7 linked regions of the Homo sapiens genome follow. The protein of the gene in region 4 interacts with the protein of the main gene of each other region in a pairwise test. Each region holds a gene or a part of one and is shown on either strand. Other genes may lie near its edges. The genes, in order: RBM12, FAM124A, DHX38, RBM10, U2SURP, AKAP9 and NIN.

Region 1 (3,500 bases), on a different chromosome or scaffold from region 4:
GACCCCCAAAGGAACAACTGTTCAAAGCACCCATCTACCCCACCCCTATCCCTCAGATAAACTTGTAAAAAACCACACCGGCCTGGGTGGCGGCTCATGCCTGTAATCCCAGCACTTTGGGAGGCTAAGGCAGGTGGATCACAAGGTCAGGAGTTCAAGACCAGCCTGGCCAAGAGGATAAAACCCCATCTCTACTAAAAATACAAAAAAATTAGCCGGGTATGGTGGCAGGCGCCTGTAATCCCAGCTATTCGGGAGGCTGAGGCAGAGAAGTGCTTGAACCCGGGAGGCGGAGGTTGCAGTGAGCCGAGATGGCACCACTGCACTCCAGCCTGGGCAACAGAGTCTAGCCTGGGCAACTGAGCAAGACTCCGTCTCAAAACAAAAAACAAGCAAACAAAAACACACACACACACACACACACACACACACACACACAATATAGTTGCTACATATATTTTCATATTTCTTAATAAGCTATCTCATTTTATTTTGTATAAAAACGAACTCTCTATTCAAAATCTCTTACCTGATAAAACAAGAGATGAATTTCCTTAACAAGAAGTAGAGGCCAAGTCAATCCTGTGGGCAACCAATTAAAACCAACTTTTAGACTGCAATAGAGAATAAACGGAGGCAAAAATCAATGCAGGAAACACAAAACAACACGCACAGGCCACACTGTACATTACGAAGGCGAGTCTGAAACCACCAGAGTACTTCATTAGAATGCATATCAAAAAAAAAAAAAAAAAGAAAGACACCGTAACAAAATCCCACACATGCTTTTTAGTTGGTATTGCTTTCAAATTTGAGTATCTCAAAATAATTATATATTTACAAGAGTGTCATTAACTTAGCCCAATAACGAATCCACTGAAAATTAAAACAGTCATAAAGCTCAGCTTCACAGCTAATTGCTTTGATCACTTTATAATTAAACCAGTCCAGAAAACTCCGTAACACAAGTCTATTTCCCCAGGTTCTCACCAAATTTGTGATGAAAAGGCACAAGTTCGCACAATAACAATTCTTGGACAACTTAAGATAGCAATTCAAGGGTACTCATGGAAATTACTGCAATTATTCTTTCAATATATTTTATTTTGCACAAAATAGCATCCAACATCACAAAACAAATGAAGTATGAGTTCTTGCTATAAGGACTAATTCCACTGGAGCTCAAAATATTAACAAAATATTAAGGGAAAGTGTTTTTTCCTCTGACATCACAACAGTTCTCAAAAACTTGTAAAATTTAAATAAATAAAATAAAATAAAATTTAAAAACACCCTAAAAATGCCTGACATATTAAGAGTATATCCCAAAATAAAAACAGGTCACTCATCTTTCACTGTCATTTCTTCCAAACTGGTGAGGTTATTAACAAGTCACAAGCATATATGACCAAATGTCTAGACAACTATATTCAAAGGTCATTTTTTGCTTTTTATTTTTTTTCAAAGGTCATGTTTTAATTCGGAGAGAGAAGAAATTTGCCACTGTTCAGTATTAAGATTACCTACGACTACTTTTCCAAATGATGCTCATCTTAAATTAGTATCTTCCAAGACCAAAATACAACTAATGACCTTAATATTCATCGCCAAAAAGTAAAACATATTTCAAAAATCTGTGTGATTTTCTAAAGGACAAACTATTCATCGTCTAGTCAACTACTCAAGTTGCTAAAGAATAGTGAGATGGTTTTACCACAAAAAGCTATGCAAATATGTAATCAACACAATCAAAAGTCTAGAGCATTGTATTAATCTTTTACATGTTGTAGAAATCTAGCCTCTTTTTTTTTTCTTTTTTTGAGACAGGGTATCGCTCTGTCGCCCAGGCTAGAGTGCAGTGGCGCGATCTAGGCTCATTAGGCTCATTGCAACCTCCGCCTCCCTGGGTTCAAGCTATTCTCATGCCTCAGCCTCTGGAGTAGCTGGGACTGACTACAGGCTTGCGCCACCACCCGCAGCTTATTTTTGTATTTTTAGTAGAGACAGGGGTTTCATTATGTTACCCAGGCTGGTCTCTTAACTCCTCACCTCAAGTGATCCACCCGCCTCAGCCTCCCAAAGTGCTGAGATTACAGGTGTGAGCCACCACGCCTGGCCTAGCCTAACTAAGTCTAAGGAGTTTAAAAATTCTTCATTTGAAAGCCATATCTAGTAGTTTAACAGGTCACAAAGGAAAATGTGAAACAGAAAAAAACCTGCTTCAAGTAAAGCAATGAGCAAGAGCATGAAGTACTGTAATATTTATGTACAGGTTTGACTCCAGCAGCCACATAACAGGGTAACTTTCTAGTTTCTAGAACTTGTAATAAACATCTGATCCCTACTGGAGATTCCAATTCAAAAGGTCAGGTATGGGGCCAGGGCATATGCCTGAATATAAGGTAAGAAGGTTCCTCTCAGCCTCTTCCCTTGCAAACTCAAAAGATACCGTATGTCTATCTTGAGAAGGACATATCTGGGGTCAGCCAGTTAAGCTCAAAGGGAACTCACCAGGTCTACTCTCAAAAATTTCTAAAAGGTTACCAGAAATTACCTTTAAAAGGAAGATATTTCTCATTCCACAAGGCAAGGCTGAAAGGCCCAGCTGAATTTGACAAATGCCTAGTTCAAGTTTTATGTGTACAACTTAAAGCACAAAATCAATCCAGATAGAAATTTATGATTCTCTTCTATTTCAGCAAAGAGGAATACCCACCCCACCCCATACCAAGGAAAACCATGCAGAAAGTTGATGCTACAAGTCAGAACTTCACAACCCTTGGTATTATACCTCTTCAAAAGGGAAAGGTAAATGGAAATAGAACTGAAATACTTCTGTGTTGACACCTCACTTTGTAAAAACCACAAGAATTTAACATAAGTGTCACTGTTTTCCAGGAAACTACTATTCCTGTATTCTAAATGTCAGCTAGCGACTGAATGCAGGATTTCAAAAATCCACGCCATTTACCTAAAGCTTTGCTGAACTTTAGAAGGATAAGACTAAAATAATAACTAAACAATAAAACATCTAAAATACATATTCTATCTATACATACAGCATAATGATAGGAAAGGAGAAAATGGGCCTGATTTGTCATTAAAGCCACTGATATACTTCAGAAGATCTAAAACAAGAAGCTGGCTTTAGTATGTTTTCCATTCATATTATCAGGAATTAGTCCTAACATAAAGGCTTGCTTCAACTTGACAAAATACCGGATGCATGCACAAATCACAAGTATCTGCTACAAAAATTTAACATATTATGGCAAGACAGACTTTCGTATTTACTAGCCATTCTAATCACTTGGAATTTCAGAAAAAAATGTCTGACAACAAATCTCTTCATCAAGAAGTCAAGGCACAAACTAAAACGACTATTTTCACTCTTCATCTGGTAGTAAACATCCAAAAGTGAACTTTAACTTTGTTCAGTTATCACTCTTTAATCAACAAGAACCAGGGTACAGCAGAGCTAGGTTCTTCAGATCCAAAAG
Region 2 (3,342 bases), on a different chromosome or scaffold from region 4:
GCCCTCAGACCCGGAGGCTCAAGGAGCAGCCACTACTAAAACCCAATTTATTCAAGCACACATCAACCCTCCCATGTCACAAAAGTCTCTGCAGTGGCTCACCCACTGCTTCCACCAGTTCCTCTTATGCTCCTTTTAACCAGTTGAGGTGACCCAAGATGATTTCTGTAGGACTTGCCAGGTGAGTTGGGGACAGACAGAGAAAGATTTGCTCTTTAAAGCAGACACTAGGTGGTGTTTAGTGTAGGCCAAAGTGGGACCGTGAGCAGTAATTTGGGGTTGAGGGGATCTTACTTGGAAAAGAGGCAAATGAGGGATGGGATGTAACTCAACCAGAGCACTTACCAACACATCCCCTCCCTGGCAATGCTGGAGGAAGCGTAAGGCCAAGGAAACAAGAGACACGGTTCCATTAAGCGACAAAAAACCAGGGCTACAATCTAGACTTCTTACACTACAGAGCCTAATACATAGATATAATTTATGAGACAACCTCAATATTTTTCAATTGAACACATTTATTGAGCACCTACAATGTGCCAGCATCTTTTACAAGGATAATACTCCAAACGAGTCAGGATCCTCCAGAGAGTATTGGAAGCCCTTCTGGATGAGGAAGATGCTACTGGAATGGCCAGGAATGGAAGGGAAGGCTTTGGTAAATGTGTTCCTGTGATTCCCTCTCCGTGGAGGGACTGCCATTTCCATGTGGTCTACAGTGGGCATCCTCTCCCTGCTCACCTGATGCTATGGGAACATTTTGCATTTCTTGCTTTCAAATGTTGTCTATGATGTCCTTTAGGGTCACTCAGTTTGGTAGATTGGACTGTGATGAGGGCGGGTCCAGAGTTGTACTCTAAAGCAGTCCTAGGCGAGCATGTGAGCACACTGAAATAAGGACACTGATTAGGGAGAAAGAAGGAGCCAGCCCTCGGCCATTAGCCTTTTTTTTTTTTTTTTTTTTTTTTTTTTGCCTCACTGACTTTTGTTACTGATGAACTTGCTTCCCTGTTCATTGGAGGTGGTATCATCACCTCTGAATTATTTTTCTCCTTCTTCCTAATGTTTGCAGGTTGCTTTTCCTCATCAGCTATTGACTGAATCACATTTCTGGGCAGAAGGTGGAGTGCTGGTGGCTTTCCAGGAATCAGCTCTGCAGAAAGAAGCTCCTTCCTGTTCTGAGCCCTGTGGTTCTGAAGTCATTGGTCTAACCTGAGTAGCCCACTTTTTTGGCATGACACACCACAGCAGCATTAGGCGGGAGACTTAGAATTTTTGTTGTTGACTGGAGCTGGGATGTTGAATCAACCTCAGGCAGCAGCCTAGCTCAAGGGATAATAAACTATGACCCTTGGGCCAAATCTGGCCCACCAGCTGTTCTTGTAAATAAAGTTTTATTGGCTGGGAATGGTGGCTCATGCCTGTAATCCCAGTGCTTTGGGAGGCCAAGGTGGGTGGATCACGAAGTCAGGAGTTTGAGACCAACCTGGCCAACATGGTGAAACTCTGTCTCTACTAAAAATACAAAAAATTAGCCAGGCATTGTGGTGCGCACCTGTAGTCGCAGCTACTTGGGAGGCTGAGGCAGGAGAATGGCTTGAACCCAGGAGGCAGAGCTTGCAGTGAGCTGAGATTGCGCCATTGCACTCCAGCCTGGGCAACAGAGCAAGACCCCGTCTCAAATAAAAAAAAAATAAAGCTTTATTGGAACTCAGCCATTCCCATTCATTAACATATTACTCATGGCTGCTTTCATACTACAGTGGCAGAGTTGAGTAGCTGCAAGAGACCATATGACTGGCAAAGCCTAAAATACTTATTATCTAGCCCTTTTCAGAAAGTTTGCTTACTCCTTATCCTGAATTAGGAGACTATATTTTTAAAAATTTAAATTAGAGCAGAATATTACATTACAATTCTGAGTGTTAGAGAGTCCAGAATGCTTGGGGCAAGGCCTAAGGCTGTCATTACAAGGATGGCAAAGACTTGAAGCTTCAGCTGAAGACTGATGGTTGGTAACTGCTGCCTGGAGGGTCGTGTTGGAAAGGACTCTGAGGCTGTGTCTGGGCTGGCGTGGGCATTTCCAGAGAGATGAACACTGTGCCATGATTAATTCAAGGAGCACCAGCCTGGGAATTGAGCTTGGCAAACCCATGCTGTTCTTCCTCAAAGGTAAATAGTATCCAGGGACAGCTTGGCACTGCCCCCGATGCCAGCCTTTGGCATTGCTGAGGTTGGGGCTGTAAACAAACATACTCTTACTGAGGTGAGAGGGAGGTGAGATTCAAATACCATTCACGGTGTGACAGTAGCAGATAACAGGCAGGAAAAGCCAAGGTTGCTGGGCTCCAGCGTTAATTAAAGCTCCCATGCAATCATGTGAGGCTGGCAGTGCACTGGTGTTTGTTCAGGAGAGCGTTTCAGGTAAAGTTTCCCGTTTTGGGGAGAACAGCATTATTAATCTGTGTGATCAAAATGCTGGCTAAAATGTTCCAAATCATTTAAAAATGAGAAACATAGGATGCGTGACCCAGCATGGTCACTGCAGAAAGCAGTATACAGTGCGGCTCTTGTCATTTGAATATAGTCCTTAGACTGTGGTTTTTGAAAGTTGAAGGATCTTAAGACTACCTACCCATGATGTCTAATGGCCTATAATTCTGTAATCCCAACAAATGCTCTTCCTCAGTGATCCAAATAAATTCAGGTAGTGGAGTGGTCTTCAGAAGCCCCTCATCCATTCCAGTGAAATGTGCTGTTGAAAAGGTGTATGCAAATCTACTTTCTGGAACTCACATATTTTAAATGCACCAAGAGTCTGTTACTCATGCTAAATCTTTATGAAACACATTAGCAACTTTTGTATAAATCCAGATTTGCAGGTGTTGCATGGCTTCAAGATGAGGAATTACCTGTAGTCTGATATACGTTTACTTCTCAAGCTGACTTTTTCCATTATAAGCAGTGCTTAAACATCCCTAGGGCCACTGTTCTCTGGTAATGTAAATATATATGGAGAATCCAGTAAGGTGTGCGTTACGTTATTATGCAGTAATCCCTCATACAAGTCACTTACTATCTCTCCCACATTCAACGTTTTGGCCTTAATTGATTTGCCTTCATACCATGGAAAAATTGCCAAATTGGTTCTGGCTGACTAGGTTTTCTTTTCATTTCAAATAATTATATAAGCCATTTAAATTGTATAAACCCACTAAACCATACCTCAAATGCTGAATATTCAAAAAATATATTTTATGACAAGTTTGTTGAGAATTTATTTGCATAAAAATGCCAGTATTTTTCTGCTGTGTCTCTAGAGATATACCACCCCCCAGCTAA
Region 3 (3,500 bases), on a different chromosome or scaffold from region 4:
GTGCTCCACATGGCTGCCTGCCCCAGTACCAAAGCCGCCTTCTCTTCTGCAGCTGAGGCCTGCTTTTTTCACTGACTCAAGACACTGGACAATCAGTCCTAACTCAGTCATCCCTCAGTCCAGGAAGTACTTACATTTCCTTCTTTTTTGAAAAATCAAGTTCACAACTATGCTAGGAAGTACAGAAAAACAGGGAAGATGTGATTACCTGCTGGCTGGAAGAGACAGGCATAAGATGCAAGGGAGCCTGGTATGGGGAGAATTATGCTACGAAAAGGGGTAAGCCAAAGCCCAGCACCATTTTGCAACCCTAAATATGGATCTAGGCAATGGCCATCAACAGACGCTAAAACCTCAAGATGGAGGAGCAGTGGAAACCTATCAGGGAAGAGGCAGGCTGCCACCACTGGGGCCCCTCATCCATCCTCCCATCAGCAAAGGTGGGGCCACCAGACCTCACATGCCTCCTGAAGGCATCTAAGAGGAGGTTCACAGTGCCACATGCAGGCATCTCTGCCACACGCAGCTCAGCCGGGATCTAATTGAGCGGTTGGACTCATCGCCAGCTTACAGCAAGTGCACGAAACACAGGCACAGGTTAAACACCGCTGTGAGCAAGCAATGAGGCAAATACATCATATGGACTATTCGACAGGACAAATGACCTGGCTGCTCCAATAAATCAATGTCATGAAAAAAAGCGTGGGGTGGAGCCTGTTCTAGAATGAAACAGTTAACACACATAAGCAGTTGCAATGCCTGGATCCTAATTCAAGCAAATCGATCATAAGAAGTTATCTTTGAGATAAATGGAGAAATCCAAATGCGGACTGGAGACTTAGGTGACATTAAGTATTCATTTTTTTATGAGTGATAACGGCACAGAGGTTATATTTAAAATTTTAAGTCCTTTTAGTCAGAGACACATACTCAAGTATTTATGGATGAATAATGTATGAGATAAGCTTTAAAATATTCCAGAAAAAAAAAATGGATGTGTGTGGAGTGGGGTAGGAATAGTGAAATTGAACAAACGTTGACAATTATAGAGGCAAGGCAACGAATTCATGGTGGCCTGTTGTACTGTTTTTCCCACTTTCATGAATATTTGGACTTTTCAATAATGAGTTTTTTGGTTTTGTTTTTAAAGGCTCAGCCTACCAAACAACTGGAGTGGGTGGTGGGGAATCAGACAGACCCAGCCTGCTGGATCACAGCCTTTATGTTTGCAGAGAGAAGTAAGTGGGTTGGATGACCGCAAGTCTTCAATACCAAGCGGAGGGAACACCGACCCCACAGGCAAACAGCACCCCTGCGAAGAGCACAGAATCCTCACCTGCCGTGACTTGCCCGCCTGTTTCACGCTATAGAACATGGGGCCCAGCTCCGCCAGCCACTCCCCGTCCACAGCGGTCACACACTGCATATACTCCTGCGGGCAGAAGGGCAGGGAGGCGAGGGTCACAGGAGGGCCAATGTCCCTCCCAGAGTGGTTCCACAATTAGGAGCCACATGGGAAGGGCCCAATCCCTGGCCCTGCAAGGCTGAAAAAAGGAAAGGAAAAACCCCAGATACTCCCATCCAAACTCCTCCACACTTGAGAAAATGCCCCCAGTATCTAAAAGAAAAGGCCCAACCCCTCCGAAAATCCTTCTAATGACACCAAGAGGGGTTGCTCATCCCAAGCAGCAAGTGGGGAACAATCGTGCCCATGCAGCTGAGGTCAATGCAGTCTAGAGGTCAACCCTGTGCAGAGCTTCCCCAAGTCCCCAAATGAAAACCAACCTCACATGCCCCGCAAAACAATGCATGTGGCCTCAAGGCTCCCAGGCTAAAAGCTCATGCCAGAACGCAGTGAAGGGTTTCAAAGCCTGGCCAGACAGGGGGCCTGCATTATGCAAGTGCCTTGGAAAAGACTCACCTTGGTGGTCATGACCAACTCGTGATACACTATGTAATCTGGGGTGTAGCCCATTCCAAAAAGGGAGCTGGTGGGGTGCAAGTGGCAGGGCATCCCTGTGCGGATGTTCACGTACTCCCCGATTCCCTAGGGAGGAGACACAACAGGCAGCCACATCAGGAAAACAACACCCATTTGGGCAGCGACCCCATCCCTTAACACTCTTGACACAGCCTTTGGCGGAAGCCCAGATCTGCAGAACCACACCAGGACAAAGGAAGAACTTTGCCCTTATACAGGTATCAGGCTGGGAGGGGCTCACTGGGCTCCTGGGTTCACCTTGAGCTTGGCTGCTTGGTGGAAATAGGCAGCACAGATGCACTTCCTGACGATGTCCCAGTCAGTGCCACACGAGGCCAGGCTCATCCGCTGCTGCACCATGATGTCCTTGAGTTGAGCTCGCACCTCCCGGACCTAGGGCAGGAGACGGAGGCACCAGGAGGGAGCCCTCCTTTCCTCTCGACCCTCCCCTCATCCCAACATCCTGCTCATCCACCACTCTACCTTCCGCATGGCCTTAGCATGGATGAAATGATCGTTACACCAGATGGTGGAGTAATTATTGTTCTTCCACTGCAGGTAAACATTCAGGTAGGTCAAATGATCGCTCTCAGGAACAGCGAACTTCTCCCGGATTTGATCACTCTCCTCCTCTCGACCCTAGGAAGGGAAAAAGAACCTTCACTCTAAGTACAGGGGGGTCCAGGCCCACTGAGCACATCCCAGAGGTTCTAACACTACCACCTACCCACACATAGAACTTCAAACATGTCAATAGGTTGCCCTGACAATTTGAGAAAAATTAAAATAATTTTTAAAAAGGTCTACTCTAAAACATGAGGGCTCAAGAGCAACCATACTAGAAGATAAAAAATGCTCTTGCAAATTTCCAAAGCATTCCCTGAGAACCACTGGCCCAGCCCTTCCTTTCCCCTACCCCAACCTGCTTAACCGAGAACAGCAAAATCATTCTTCAGAAACTCTGATTCTGCCCTCTGTTCCATTTCAGTAATACAGAGAGAAGCCATTCCCCTCCCCAACACTTCCTCGAGCCCTCCGGGGAGAGGGGAGCCAGCCGCTGCCCCACCTTGGGCCTGTAGAAGATGGCTGGGACCGAGAGCATGGAAACGATGAGCAGGATCTCGGAGCTGCAGCCCATGTCACAGGACACGATGAGCATCTTGGACAGGGCAGGGTCCAGCGGGAACTCCACCATCAGCCGCCCGGTAGAGGTCAGACCACCTAGGAGAGATGAGCAAACCCGGATATTTGACGGGACAGTAGAGGAAAGAAGGAAGTCAAGCGCCAGCACCCATGAGGCTCCCGGGGCCGCCTCACCTGTGTTGTCCAGGGCCCCGAGGATCCAGAGCTGATACATAGAGTTGAGCATGTTGTCCTCCGGGGGCGGGTCCATGAAGTGGAACTGCAGCAGGTCCTGCACCCCGAGGGACTTGAGCAGCAGCACCACGTTGGCCAGGTTAGTCCTCTGGATCTCGGGCACTGTGGTGGTCAGGAGCTCATTCTTGTAGGCGCTCTGGGT
Region 4 (4,093 bases):
ACTCAAAAGGTGGAGGGGGGCCGGGAGCCGTGGCTCATGCCTGTAATCCCAGCAGTTTGGGAGGCTGGGGTGGGCAGATCACCTGAGGTCAGGAGTTTGAGACCAGCCTGGCCAACATGGCGAAACCCCGTCTCTACTAAAAATACAAAAATTAGCCAGGCGTGGTGGCAGGCGCCTGTAATCCCGGCTACTCAGGAAGCTGAGGCAGGAGAATCACTTGAACCCAGGAGGCGGAGGTTGCAGTGAGCTGAGATCGTGCCATTGCACTCCAGCCTGGGCAACAAGAACGAGACTCCTTCTCAAAATATATATATATTATATATATATAAAGGTGGAGGAGATGGGAGGGGGTGAAGGATGAAAAATTACTTAATGGGTATGATGTACATTATTTGGCTGATGGATGCTCTAAGAACCCTGACTTCAGCACTATACAATCTGTGCATGTAACAAAAGCACTTGTTTATTTTATTTATTTATTTATTATTTTTTTGAGATGGAGTTTCGCTCTTATCATCCAGGCTGGAGTGCAGTGGTGCAATCTCGGATCACTGCAGCCTCCACCTCCTGGGTTCAAGCAATTCTCCTCCCTCAGCCTCCCGAGTAGCTGGGATTACAGGCATCCGCCACCATGCCCAGCTAATTTTTTTGTAATTTTAGTAGAGACGGGTTTTCGCCATGTTGGCCAGGCTGGTCTCAAACTCCTGACCTCAGGTGATGTGTCTGTCTCGGCCTCCCAAAGTGCTGGGATTATAGGCATGAGCTACCGCGCCTGGCTACAAAAGCACTTGTTACCCCATAAACTTATACAATTTCTTTAAAAAGCAGCCGCGATCTCTTGAGGAGGGCAGAGCCTTTGTGACCTAATCACCTCTGAAAGGCCCTGCCTGTCAACACTGTTGCATCAGGGATTAAATTTATCTTTTGAGATGGAGTTTCACTCTTGTTGCCTGGGCTGGAGTGCAATGGTGCAATCTCAGCACACTGCAGCCTCCGCCTCCCGGGTTCAAGGAATTCTCCTGCCTCAGCCTTCCAAGTAGCTGGGATTACAGGCATCCACCACCACGCCCAGCTAATTTTGTATTTTTTTAGTAGAGCTGGGGTTTCACTGTGTTAGCCAGGCTGGTCTCAAACTCCTGACCTCAAGTGATCCACCCGCCTTGGCCTCCCAAAGTGCTGGGATTACAGGTGTGAGCCACTGCACTCAGCCGGGATAAAGGCTCCACCTGTGAACACTGTTGCATTAGGGATTACATTTCTGACACATGAACTTTGAGGGACAAAAAACATAGCAGAGAACACAGCCAGAGAGGGGCTTGGCAAGAAGCACTGGTGACTGGTGACAGAAAATAGGAACTTGCACTACTGTGTCCCTCACCTTCTGATTGTTCTGCCTCAGCTTCCACTCATCTGCCTCCCAGATGGGCCCGCCACTCTGTCCACACTGCTTCTGCCACCTCACCATTGCAAACCAGTGGGGGTGGGGGCACAGGGTGTGTTCAGTGATGAGGTCAGGAGTAGCCAGGTGCCAAGTGCCTTGCAGGCTGTGGTTGCGAGTTTGGGTTTATTCTTGGTGTGATGGGAGGCGAAGGAAGGGTTTTAAGGACATTGTATTTGGGGGTGGGAGTGGCTTATACTTCATGAAAGAGCGCTCTGCTGGGAAAGGTGGTCAGGAGCCGTAGCCCAGAGGCCAGATGAAGCCTTCTGCAGTGGTTCGGACTAGGGATAGTGGCTGGCCCGTGTTTGAGGATGCAGGGCAGTGGGTCAGCAGATAGAGTTAGTAGCCCCAGGGTCATGAGGGTTCTGGGAACCTCACCTCCACCCTCACCCCCAGATTGCCAAGGACATGGAACGCTGGGCCCGCAGTCTCAACAAACAAAAAGAAAACTTCAAAAATAGCTTCCAGCCTATCAGCTCCCTGCGAGATGACGAGAGGCGGGAGTCAGCCACTGCAGATGCTGGCTATGCCATCCTCGAGAAGAAGGTGTGTTGGGGCCACCCCCCTGCACCCTGCCCCACAATCTTGTCCTTCCTTTGGGCCCTCTGTGGAGTCCCTGAATTTCTGTGTCCCTCCACCCCAGGGAGCACTAGCCGAGAGACAGCACACCAGCATGGATCTCCCGAAATTGGCCAGTGACGACCGCCCAGTGAGTGCCCAAGGCAGAGAGGGGCGGGGGCTCTGATCTGGCCAGGCCTGACCGCCCACCCTCACCCTCTACAGAGCCCTCCGCGAGGACTGGTGGCAGCCTACAGCGGGGAGAGTGACAGTGAGGAGGAGCAGGAGCGTGGGGGCCCTGAGCGGGAGGAGAAGCTCACCGACTGGCAGAAGCTGGCCTGTCTGCTCTGCCGACGCCAGTTCCCCAGCAAAGAGGCGCTCATCCGGCACCAGCAGCTCTCAGGGCTCCACAAGGTAACAGCGGATGGTTGGCAGGGCATGCTGGGGCCTGGCCCACTGAGGCTCATCCTCTTCACTTCTCATCCTGTCCCTCTTGCAGCAAAACCTTGAGATTCACCGGCGAGCCCACTTGTCAGAAAACGAGCTAGAAGCACTAGAGAAGAATGACATGGAGGTGAGGTGTGACCTGACCCTGGGCTCCCTCCCCTGTGTCCCTTCCAAGTCCCCATCACCTCAGGCAGCTGGAGTTCAATTTCTCACGTGTTAACCCCGTGAGCCTTCTTCCCCATTTTCCTATCCTGGCTGCTTGTGCCTGTGATGGCCTGACCCTCAGGACCTGAGCCTCATTAGCCAGATGGCATGCCCTGTGGGACCCCACTCCCCATGCCTGTGTTGCCTGAGAAAAGAGACCAGCTCCCCAACATTCACATACACATACAAACTTTCAGCAAATGAAGTACCGGGACCGTGCAGCTGAACGCAGAGAAAAGTATGGCATCCCCGAGCCGCCAGAGCCCAAGAGGAGGAAGTACGGCGGCATATCCACAGCCTCTGTGTGAGTGGCTGGGCCAGGTGAGGGGGTCTGGAGCCCGGGGCCGGGGCCGGCAGGCCGACCACTCATGCTGTGCACCGCCCCTGCAGAGACTTCGAGCAGCCTACTCGGGACGGGCTGGGCAGTGACAACATTGGCAGTCGGATGCTGCAGGCCATGGGCTGGAAAGAGGGCAGCGGCCTGGGCCGCAAGAAGCAGGGCATTGTAACGCCTATCGAGGTGAGTCTCAGGCAGTCCTGTCCCATCCCCCAGCACCCCTCACAGCATCCCCCACCAGCCTGACAGAGCCTGCCTCCCTCACACAGGCCCAAACACGGGTGCGGGGCTCCGGCCTGGGTGCACGGGGCAGCTCCTACGGGGTCACCTCAACCGAGTCCTACAAGGAGACACTGCACAAGACAATGGTGACCCGCTTCAACGAGGCCCAGTGAGCAGCTTCAAGAGCAACTTCTCCACATGTTGGGTGTCCATCCTGGGGCAGGGAAGGACAGAGTGTTGGATGGCTGGGACGGGGCCTTGCTCTTGTCGGCCAGCCCACTCCCCAGCCAGAGAGGGCTTGACCAAATCAAATTGAGGTGGTGACTTTTGTTGGAAAATTGGGCTGGGATCACGTCCTGTTTTGTAATAAAAGCTGAAAAGTCTGCATGTTGGCCTCTCCTCTTTCTCGTGCTCTAGCACAGTTGTATAGCCTATACAGACACGGGGACCCAAGCAGATGGACAGGGGACCTTATCAGGCCAAGGTGGATGGCAGTGGTGGCATTCAGTGTCTGGAACATAATGGCTACTAGAACATGGGGTTCTGACCTGTACCCCGACCCATAATATCCTGGTTATGGCCCCTCTCCCTTGTTGGTTCCAGCAGGTTATGTTGTACCAGGAAATCTAGCACCACCAGGCATGAAGCGCCCCCTGATCAGAGCTAGGACTGGGAACCCCCATCCCCTGTCCTTGCTGCCCCCTGGCTTTACTTAGCCTGCAGTCCCAAGGCTAAACTGCATTTTGCCATCCCTAGATCTGGAGACAATGCCCTCAGGCATCTCCAAGTAGAATACAAGAGGTACTCAGGTTCCAGTTGGCCCAGAGCCCTCAACAGGCTGATGACAGAGGGGTGGAGGTGGAGCTTGGCCTGCAAATCCAAGGCCA
Region 5 (3,500 bases), on a different chromosome or scaffold from region 4:
GTGCCAACAGTTTACCCACCAAATGCTTTTGTACCTCCAGCTACACTTGCATTAGTGCAAATGCCAAAATGGTGAAAAAGGCATAAATAATGCCTTAGTATTATTACAAAATAGTTTTGAATTCACAGACCCTTCTCAGAGATTCTCAGTGACTCCAGGGGTCTTCAGACTACACTTTGAACACTGCTGTAATAACATATATTAAAAAAATACTTATTGTAGTATTATCTATCCAAAATGTTACTTGAAAGCTTTAAACAAAAAATATATGCCCATCAACAAAGAAATAACAAACAACTGCACTTCCCCACCACAGAACATTATGATGCCTTAAGAAAGAACAGATTAGAGCTGTTAACAGTTTACCTGCAGGGATTTCCAACATATGTTTTGTGCGGTGAGAAAGGCATATGCATAATGCAATCCCATAGTCAAAGTATAAGTATAGATACGTTATGTATGTACAGATTTTTACACAATAAAAATCATAAGGAAATATACATACTAGGTTTCTAACATCGCTTCAGAGGGCTAAGTTATGCAAGCAGAACATAAAAAAAAAAAAGGAAGGCGCCTAGAAAAAAAAGAGTAAAAGAAAAAAGCACATACAATTGTATTTATTTGTCAAGTAAAATCATTGATGTAGGGATACATATGAGGAGAAGTTAAATTTTAAAGGAAAAAAGACAAAGATTGCCTTCTATACTCACATGTGCATCTGAAGATCCAGATGAATGAACATCTGATGATCTCGTCTACAAGTATCAAAAATAAAAGTCAATAATTTAAAATGTCTTATACTAACAAAACATGTCTCTCGTGTTATACAAACTTAAGAGTTTCCTAACTTCTGGCAATTTCTCCTCAGCTAATAAAACTGAGCAAAGGCAGTCTCTGACTTATGAAAAGATTGTGATACAAAGTAAATGTGTAAGTCATTTCTTTAAAATTCAGCCTGCATATTTCCAAAAATATAATAAACACTAGTGGGATATATATGAGGCAAAATTACCTCTTTATAGTATACACTGGAAACCTAACCACCATTTTTACACAGTTTTATGCAAAAGCTCTTCCTAATCATAGATGCATCGTTTACTGCCACAGCACTGCCCAGCAACTTCTTGGTCCACAGCACGAGAACTCTCTTTCTCTAATCACCCAAAGCCACATAAAGAAATCCACATATAAATCCTTGCTGTCTATTAAAAGGTACAAATTCTGCAAAGTTCCAGAAAATATTATCAAATCCCCAATAAGGCACCATTTACAACTCGTTTTAAGGGAGATGATTCGATAGCATGTCACAGGCTGCCTGGTGGCATGAGAAAGAGTTCATATAATATCTTCCAGTGATGTCAACTGTTAAAACTTCAACTTTTCTTAAGTGATCTACCTATCAGATTATACATGGTATGCAATAACTTGTTGCCACTACACATGTAAAGACAAAGATGACAAGCTGTAGGACGATTAACTAAATAATGTATGCTATCTTTCTGAAAGAAAGATTCTCCAAGAATTTTTACTTGGGGATCCAAAATATAACTGTCACTGAGCTGTTTTTATTTTTGAGGGTATACGGTAGTGAAATTTTACTTGTTTTTATTTATATATTTAAGTGTCAAATGTTCAAATGAAATCAAGAATATTGAGATCACAAATATCTCACCTGACCCCAACTCCCAGACAAGATGTCATATAAAGTACAAGATAAAATATTAGTTTAAGAGAAAAACTGAAGATTCATGTTATTTAAAAAAGAGCAAAGATCCATACAGTATTGTTTTATTTACATTGTCCAGACATAAGGCTAAGAACAGCTGGTAAGATTTTTACACTGAATCAATTTACTCCTCTGAACTCCACTGTATTGCGCATTAGCATAGGCAAAAATCAGCCCAGGACAACAGGACAACCAAGCACTGGGACCCCTCCCATCTCATTCTTTCTTTCATTTTTTTTTTTTCTTGAGACAGAGTCTTACTCTGTCTCCCAGGCTGGAGTACAGTGGCGCGACCTCGGCTCACTGCAGCCTCCGCCTCCCGGGTTCCAGTAATTCTCCTCCCTCAGCCTCCTGGGTAGCTAGGAGTACAGGCACGCACCACCATGCCTGGCTAATTTTTGTATTTTTAGTAGAGACGGAGTTTTACCACGTTGGCCAGGCTGGTCTCGAACTCCTGACCTCAGGTGATCTGTCCACCTCAGCCTCTGAAAGTGCTAGGATTACAGACATGAGCGACCGCACCCGGCCCCATCTCACTCTTTCTGTCCATGGTTTTTCTGTCCCCAACTTTTGTGTCCACCCTGATTTTCTTCTAGCGGCTAATCTTTCTTAAATGTCAAGGTGGTATAAAAGAAAATTTTTAGTATTTATTAACTATGAAACACACCCTGAAACATATCTTGAAATGCATAAATTTACAAATATCTAGAAATTTAAAAATCCAAAAGAATAAATAACTACTCTTACAAAAGAAAAACAAGTTCAGGCAAGAGGCTGAAGGGACTGAAAAAAATCAACTGCCTGGGCCAGGTGCAGTGGCTCACGCCTGTAATCCGAGCACTTTGGGAGGCCGAGGCGGGTGGATCAAGAGATGGAGACCATCCTGGCCAAACCTGGTGAAACCCCATCTCTACTAAAAATACAAAAATTAGCCAGGCGCCTGTAGTCCCAGCTACTCGCTGAGGCAGGAGAATGGTGTGAACCCGGGAGGCAGAGCTTGCAGTGAGCTGAGATCGCGCCACTGCACTACCGCCTAGGCGACAGAGACTCCATATCAAAAACAAACAATAGTAACAAAAAAAACTCAATTGCCTTCCAATACACCAGTATTAACTTGCTAAGCAACAAAAACATCCTAATCATAAAAGCAACAAAAAATATAAAAACATCTAGAAACCAATTTAAGAAATGTATATAACCCTTGTGAAGAAAACAAAAACTTCGAGAAAAATCCAGTTACTCAAGCCACCTTTTCAAAAGATTCATATTACTGGATGGGAAAATTCAATATTAAGATAATGTCAATGACACCTAAATTTCTTTACATATTTAATACAATTTCATTCAACCGCTCTAAATTCCAAAGGGAAATATTTGCAAGGGGGCAAAAGAATTGCCAAAACAATTCTAAAGTTCACCCAGAAAGAATAAGCATCCAAAAGAATAACTAAGAAAGCGCTACCCTTTCTGTAGTCTTTGATGCCACCACATCCAAATCATCATTTCTAGGATTTAAAAACAAAAGATACAAGAACCTAGGCATTCTGCCTATTTCCATATAGTTAACTCTTCCCTGACTCCAAGTCATCAAAAGATGAAGCTCTATAATCTTCAAGGATCTCACTTGCGTAACCATTCACCAAATTAAATAATCTCTAATACAAAAATAATCAGTTCAAAAGTAACAATTTTGTCAGCTTTCAAAATTACACAATTTGATAAATTTGCAAACAGAGCAGTAACAGCATAGTGTAGCACAATGCACCGGTGTAGG
Region 6 (3,500 bases), on a different chromosome or scaffold from region 4:
CTCCCAAAGTGCTGGGATTACAGGCGTGGGCCACCGCGCCTGTCCTAGTTTTTCTTTTAACAAGAGTTTATTTTTTATAAGTGGTATATTTTTATAAAAACCTTCTTGTATAAATTGTTAGATGTAAACAGAACACCATATTTAGTAAATTAGCAATCAGCTTAGTTTCTTGGGGTATTTAAATGAAACTAATAAAATACAAAACTAACCTTGAGAACTTCAACATCTTGAGGGCTTCTTTTCTTTTCTTTCTCTCTCTGTTTTTTCTCATTGCCCTCCAATAGCTTCTGTAGTTCTAGCAGCTTCTTTTCTTTTTCTAAAACATTTTTTTCTGCAATTTCTACTTGTTCTTTTTCTAAAATCAAACTAGTATGCATTTCAACAACCTGGCTTTCTAATTCTGATATTCTCAAGGTTAATGCTGATATATCTGACCCCAACTCATCTTCTCTTAGTTGATTTAAATTCTGAATATTTGTTCTTTCAGGTTCTGATGAAATTGTTTGATTATCTTGACAGAATTTTGCATATTCCTGAACTGCCTCAAGTTGGATTTGACTGACAAGAGCAGCAGCCACTTTTTCTTCAACTATTTTCTGTAGGTTTACAATCTTCTTTTGAAGCATTTCTGTTTCAAACTGGCCTTGTTCTTGCATGTCTTTTATTTGTTTATAACACTGGGTAAGTTCTAAGTCCTTTGCACTAACAGTGCTCTCAAGTTGTAGCAACCTTGTTTCCAAATTAATTATGGAACCTTTGCCATTTTCTTCAAAAGATTTGAAGTATGTCTGATTTTCTAGGGATTTAAGAGCATCCTCTGTAAGGACTACTTCTAGTTCAGGTTTGTCTTTGCTCAGATGATCTATAGCCACGTTAACACTATTCTCTGGTATGCTTTGAATCTTTTCCACACTTTCACGTTCTCTCTTTAAGCTGAATAATTCCTGTGTTAGCTGATTCATTTTAAAATTGGTTTCTTTAAGTACATTTTTCATGAAGGTCATTTCTTCATTAGCGGTTTCTACTTGCTGTTCCAAGGCCAGCTTTTCAGCTATAACCACATCCAATTGATGTTTTAAACTGTCTGCTTCTTCTGAGAGGGAATGAGCATTCATTGATGTCTTCTGTCCAATATTTGCCAATTCCTGTTGAAGTTTTTCAATCACTTCATTGAGCTGCTCTATTTCTTCTTCTCTATTTCTCTTCACACATTCTTGATCACTCATCAAACATTCTATTTGGGTTTCAAGATCCCTTATCAGTTCATTTTTTTCTTCAATAACCTAATAATTAATGAAAAAGGTAACATACATAATATATATGTATTTACATTTTGAAAATTTTACTTTATTTTAGGGCAGTACCTCAAAGAGATGATCACACACAAAAATAATACACTACTTCTCAGACATACTACTTAATTTCATTATAGACCAATATCTCCCCCATCATATCAAACAAGGCTCAGAAAGTTCTGTTAAGTATAAAGTAATATAAGCTTTTAGTTGCTGATTCCCTATTAGGAAAATAGTCAATATCAATACTTCTTAATGGAAAAGGATGAAGTACGGAAATAAAGTCTACAACCGATGGCACCAAAGGTAATTACCTTACTTAACTCATATTAAATATTATAATTTATAATAGATTTGGTTAGAATAACATGATAAAATCTAAGTCACAGAGCCTTTCTGAAAAACATTAGAATCCTATGACAATATTAGGAGGGGAGAAAAATACATATAAATTATTAAACCAATGTGTCTTTGCTTTTTTTTTTTTTTCTTTTTGAGACAGGGTCTCACTCTGTCACCCAAGCTGGAGTGCAGTGGCATGATGAGGCTCACTGCAGCTGGGACTACAGGTGGTATGCCACCATGTCCAGTTAATTTTTATATTTTTTGTAGAGACAAAGTTTCACCATGTTGCCCAGGCTGGTCTTGAACTCCTGGGCCCAAGCAATCCGCCCACCTAGGCTTCCTAAAGTATAAGGATTACAGGTGTGAGCCTCTGTGCCTGGCCACCAATGTGTCTTAATAAATTAAAATTAATAAAAGAGAATTGGGCCAGGCGTGGTGGCTCATGCCAGTAATACCAGCACTTTGGGAGGCTGAGGTGGGTGGATCACCTGACATCAGGAGATAGAGACCAGCCTGGTCAACATGGTGAAACCCCATCTCTATTAAAAATACAAAAAATTAGCCAGGTGTGATGGTGGGTGCCTGTAATCCCAGCTACTCGGGAGGCTGAGGCAGGAGAATCACTTGAACCTAGGAGGTGGAGGTTGCAGTGAGCCGAGGTTGCACCATTGGACTCCAGCCTGGGCGACAGAGCGAGATTCTGTCTCAAAAAAAATAAATAAAATAAAATAAAATAAAATAAAATTGGTTTGTTTTTTAAATTCAATGGGGAGCAACATTATAACCATTTTGCCCTTTAAAACTCTGGTTCATATTAATTTCATAATCAATTTTAAATGAGTATACCTTGTTATCTGTTGTAATTTTAAGTTGCTGCTGGAGTTTCGTAACTTGTTCATTTAATTGGTCAATTTCTACCTCTTTTTCCTGTATTATTTGAGCAAATTTCCCAAATAGCACATGTTGGTCTTGAGTAGACATGGCATCAGATTCCTTTATGGCAAGTCCCAGTTTCTCCATGTCATCCTAGGAACAAAAATAATTATCACAGTTGGATATATCATTACCTATCATTTTCAGAACATAATTACAAAAGAAATCAGAGCCTATAACGTACAAATGAATAAAATCAGAGACACCATATGGTTACTGTAAATCAATAATTCTAAAATATTTTGATAAATGATCCCAAAATTTTCATTTATGATGAATTCAAATGTTCAGGTTGGGCTGAAAATAAGCTGTATGCAAATGTGTCTGCCTGTTAATGTTCCTCTGTTGAGTATTATTTAACAGCTGGATTTATCGAATGCTTAATAAAGCAATATAGGGGCCAGGTGTGGTGGCTCACGCCTGTAATCCCAGCACTTTGGGAGGCCAAGACAGGCGGATCACGAGGTCAGGAGATCGAGAGCATCCTGGCTAACACGGTGAAACCCCATCTCTACTAAAAATACAAAAATTAGCCAGGCGTGGTGGTACGTGCCTATAGTCCCAGCTACTCGGGAGGCTGAGGCAGAATTGCTTGAACCAGGGAGGCGGAGCTTGCAATGAGCCGAGATCACACCATTGCACTCCAGCCTGGGCAACAGAGTGAGACTAAGTCTCAAAAAAAAAAAAAAAAAGAAAGAAATAATAATAATAATAATAATAAAGCAATATAGGACTGAAACTATGACTTATTTACAGATAAAAGTTTTTCTTAACTAATTACCTTAAATAATTTGTTTTCCTGTTCAAGTTCTTGTAGGCGGGTAGTAGATTCCTTTTTCTGTATTTCTAATTGCATATGTAATTGTTGAACTTCTTCATTCTTATTTTCCAGTTCTTCTCTAAACTGTTCTAATTGCTCTTCTAAGT
Region 7 (3,500 bases), on a different chromosome or scaffold from region 4:
GATGGTTTTGTAGGCTGACAGCAAGGCCCCTTTTTTCTGGAGAGTTTCTCCAAAATGTAATATCTTCAGCCCTGGCAATCATGGAACTTGAAGCTTGAAACCCATTATATTATCTCCCAATTTCTTTTTTAAAAACATCTCAGTGAAACCAAAAAAAGCCCTTTGATGTTTCATTGCCTACTAAATTAGGTACAAGTTCTGAACCTTGGCCTCTAAACTCTTCACCATGAGACTTCAACTGACGTTTCCAGTCCAGACTTCAACTGACCGTTCTTATGAGTTACCTTATCCTCCAGCTAAATTGGGTAGTTCCTAGTTGTCCATCACACTCTGTCCTCTTTTGCTTGTGCTGTTACAAACTATGCTGATATTAGTTTCTTTCTGCCTCTCGAAAGTCTACTTACCCTTCAGGATTTATATTTAATGCTGCCTCTTGCATGAAGCCATTCTTGAATTTCTCCAACTAAAATGTGATTTTTTTCCCTCCTTTGAGTCCCTGGGTTACATTGTAGCTCTTTTTTGTATACCTTTTATTTTCTGCCTCCTACTGTACTTATAGTTGTCATATCCATGTCTAGACTGGTTTCTCCTGGATAGCAGGGACCATATCTTACCCAGCGTTGTATTCCGAGGCCTGCAAGTACCTGATAGGTGTTCAATTAATATTTGAATTTAATTAAGTATTTTAAGACCCAGCAGGGTACAGTGGCTCATGCCTGTAATCTCAACATTTTGGGAGGTCGAGGTGGGCAGACCACTTGAGCCTAGGAGTTCAAGACCAGTCTGGGCAACATGGTGAGACCCCGTCTCTACCAAGAAAAAAAAATTAGGGCACGGTGGTGTGTGCCTTTAGTCCCAACTACTCAGGAGGCTGAGGTGGGAGGATTGCTTGAGCCCAGGAGATGGAGATTTCAGTGAGCCATAATTACGCCACTGCACTTCAGCTTGGGTGACAGAGTGAGAACCTGTCTCAAAAAATATATATGTTCCAAGACTCAAGTTTACAGTTGGAAAGGATGCATGGGAAGACAGAGGGTAGCTATGTGTAATGGCTGCTCAGTTCTTAATAAGGTTGTTCAGACACTAATAAAATTCAGCCACTTAAAAGAGATATGTAAACCATGCCTGACTTAAGTATCTTGCTTAAAGTGTTGAATTCAGTTACTTTAAAACAAGATAGAGAAATGAGAAATGTCTTGTAGGGAAAAAAAAAAAAAAAAAAAAAGCAATTGCTGCTCCATCACTTCACTTTCAGTGACCTTGAGCTGAGTAATCTTGTGGTGGTGTCACTCTGTGCCTTCAGGTGCGCCATTATGAAAAGCAGCTGGACGAAACCGTGGTCAGCTGCAAGAAGGCACAGGAGAACATGAAGCAAAGGCATGAGAACGAAACGCACACCTTAGAAAAACAAATAAGTGACCTTAAAAATGAAATTGCTGAACTTCAGGGGCAAGCAGCAGTGCTCAAGGAGGCACATCATGAGGCCACTTGCAGGCATGAGGAGGAGAAAAAACAACTGCAAGTGAAGCTTGAGGAGGAAAAGACTCACCTGCAGGAGAAGCTGAGGCTGCAACATGAGATGGAGCTCAAGGCTAGACTGACACAGGCTCAAGCAAGCTTTGAGCGGGAGAGGGAAGGCCTTCAGAGTAGCGCCTGGACAGAAGAGAAGGTGAGAGGCTTGACTCAGGAACTAGAGCAGTTTCACCAGGAGCAGCTGACAAGCCTGGTGGAGAAACACACTCTTGAGAAAGAGGAGTTAAGAAAAGAGCTCTTGGAAAAGCACCAAAGGGAGCTTCAGGAGGGAAGGTAAGAAAGTGAAGGGAAATGAAGCTACCTGGGGCACCATCCCTCGGGGCATTAGAAGTGCCAGTTGTGGCTGGGCGCGGTGGCTCACGCCTGTAATCCCAGCACTCTGGGAGGCCGAGGTGGGCGGATCACGAGGTCAGGAGATCGAGACCTGGCTAACATGGTGAAACCCCGTCTCTACTAAAAATACAAAAAATTAGCCGGGCGTGGTGGCGGGCGCCTGTAGTCCCAGCTACTCTGGAGGCTGAGGCAGGAGAATGGCGTGAACCCGGGAGGCGGAGCTTGCAGTGAGCCGAGATCGCGCTACTGCACTCCAGCCTGGGCGACAGAGCGAGACTCCGTCTCAAAAAAAAAAAAAAAGTGCCAGTCGCTTAAGAGACTTGAAGAAGTCAGAAGGCATAATAGCCCATTGATTGAGTAGACTCTTTTAAATATTTTTTTACTGTTTTTGCCATTATTTTGATGTGAACCTACCTTGGGATGATTGGAACTGTTTTTATTTTGTTATGTTTGTAAAAGAGGAAAGTATTCCTCGTATTAAGATTTATTCTACCTTATAAGGCTCAAGAGGAGGATAAGATTATCCCAAAAGTGGTTCCTTCCTAGTTCAATCCTGTTGCTTTCTGAGAAAAGCTATTAATAAACTGGATTCCAGGCAAGGTTACATTTCCTCCCAGAGTTAAGAAACAGCACTCCATGCTTACATTCCTCATGTGAAATCCCAGGTTTATTTGAGGGCTTTGTTTCGTCACACGCTGATTGACTTGGTGCTACTTCGTTAAGTAAGAAGCAAAAGCAGAATGAATTTGTTCATATGTGTCATTTATGTGACTGATATCCTATAACGCATGCTTAATTAAAATGAAGGAATGGTATATATTTCCCAAGTGAGGAATTAGATTAATATACATTTGGTCATTTGTCTTTGGTTTAAAAATCCATAAACAAATACATCCGGGAGTGTGCCAGAGAAATTAGTTTCTAAGATTTCCCCCTAACTCCAGAGAGAGGTAAGTCTTTTAAATGAATTATGGCTGCCAGTCTTAGCTTTCAGAAATGAGATCCCTTTCCAGTATAAATGAATCACATAGGAGTAAGTTAAGAGCATTTTTAGGGAGTATTTCAGTTGTTTGCTCAGCAGCTTTCTCAGTGCATGGGAAAATGGTTTTTGTTTGCTTCTGGAGTTGGCGGCAGTTTCAATAATGCTGTATGTTGACTATATTTAGGGAAAAAATGGAAACAGAGTGTAATAGAAGAACCTCTCAAATAGAAGCCCAGTTTCAGTCTGATTGTCAGAAAGTCACTGAGAGGTGTGAAAGCGCTCTGCAAAGCCTGGAGGGGCGCTACCGCCAAGAGCTGAAGGACCTCCAGGAACAGCAGCGTGAGGAGAAATCCCAGTGGGAATTTGAGAAGGACGAGCTCACCCAGGAGTGTGCGGAAGCCCAGGAGCTGCTGAAAGAGACTCTTAAGAGAGAGAAAACAACTTCTCTGGTCCTGACCCAGGAGAGAGAGATGCTGGAGAAAACATACAAAGAACATTTGAACAGCATGGTCGTCGAGAGACAGCAGCTACTCCAAGACCTGGAAGACCTAAGAAATGTATCTGAAACCCAGCAAAGCCTGCTGTCTGACCAGATACTTGAGCTGAAGAGCAGTCACAAAAGGGAACTGAGGGAGCGTGAGGAGGTCCTGTG

What was found.
Region 1: the proteins of RBM10 (region 4) and RBM12 interact in a two-hybrid assay, tested with the Homo sapiens proteins (one large-scale study listed by BioGRID).
Region 2: the proteins of RBM10 (region 4) and FAM124A interact in a two-hybrid assay, tested with the Homo sapiens proteins (one large-scale study listed by BioGRID and IntAct).
Region 3: the proteins of RBM10 (region 4) and DHX38 interact in a two-hybrid assay, tested with the Homo sapiens proteins (one large-scale study listed by BioGRID and IntAct).
Region 5: the proteins of RBM10 (region 4) and U2SURP interact in a two-hybrid assay, tested with the Homo sapiens proteins (one large-scale study listed by BioGRID and IntAct).
Region 6: the proteins of RBM10 (region 4) and AKAP9 interact in a two-hybrid assay, tested with the Homo sapiens proteins (one large-scale study listed by BioGRID).
Region 7: the proteins of RBM10 (region 4) and NIN interact in a two-hybrid assay, tested with the Homo sapiens proteins (one large-scale study listed by BioGRID).

Annotation. Positions count from the first base shown.
Region 1 is NC_000020.11:35,658,401-35,661,900, forward strand, and holds part of RBM12 (RNA-binding protein 12), read right to left. Parts: intron 615-3,500; 5' UTR 530-614; intron 1-529.
Region 2 is NC_000013.11:51,281,398-51,284,739, reverse strand, and holds the end of FAM124A (protein FAM124A), read right to left. Parts: 3' UTR 501-3,342; downstream 1-500.
Region 3 is NC_000016.10:72,107,347-72,110,846, reverse strand, and holds part of DHX38 (pre-mRNA-splicing factor ATP-dependent RNA helicase PRP16), read right to left. Parts: coding exon 3,299-3,500; intron 3,203-3,298; coding exon 3,048-3,202; intron 2,621-3,047; coding exon 2,465-2,620; intron 2,375-2,464; coding exon 2,240-2,374; intron 2,048-2,239; coding exon 1,922-2,047; intron 1,433-1,921; coding exon 1,337-1,432; intron 1-1,336. UniProt on the Homo sapiens protein: Probable ATP-binding RNA helicase. Involved in pre-mRNA splicing as component of the spliceosome.
Region 4 is NC_000023.11:47,183,221-47,187,313, forward strand, and holds the end of RBM10 (RNA-binding protein 10), read left to right. Parts: intron 1-1,834; coding exon 1,835-1,984; intron 1,985-2,081; coding exon 2,082-2,147; intron 2,148-2,221; coding exon 2,222-2,410; intron 2,411-2,495; coding exon 2,496-2,570; intron 2,571-2,844; coding exon 2,845-2,951; intron 2,952-3,037; coding exon 3,038-3,167; intron 3,168-3,253; coding exon 3,254-3,379; 3' UTR 3,380-3,593; downstream 3,594-4,093. UniProt on the Homo sapiens protein: Binds to ssRNA containing the consensus sequence 5'-AGGUAA-3'. May be involved in post-transcriptional processing, most probably in mRNA splicing. Binds to RNA homopolymers, with a preference for poly(G) and poly(U) and little for poly(A).
Region 5 is NC_000003.12:143,008,070-143,011,569, reverse strand, and holds part of U2SURP (U2 snRNP-associated SURP motif-containing protein), read right to left. Parts: intron 756-3,500; coding exon 711-755; intron 1-710.
Region 6 is NC_000007.14:92,076,862-92,080,361, reverse strand, and holds part of AKAP9 (A-kinase anchor protein 9), read right to left. Parts: coding exon 3,355-3,500; intron 2,667-3,354; coding exon 2,487-2,666; intron 1,284-2,486; coding exon 210-1,283; intron 1-209. UniProt on the Homo sapiens protein: Scaffolding protein that assembles several protein kinases and phosphatases on the centrosome and Golgi apparatus. Required to maintain the integrity of the Golgi apparatus. Required for microtubule nucleation at the cis-side of the Golgi apparatus.
Region 7 is NC_000014.9:50,758,163-50,761,662, reverse strand, and holds part of NIN (ninein), read left to right. Parts: intron 1-1,303; coding exon 1,304-1,806; intron 1,807-3,032; coding exon 3,033-3,500. UniProt on the Homo sapiens protein: Centrosomal protein required in the positioning and anchorage of the microtubule minus-end in epithelial cells. May also act as a centrosome maturation factor.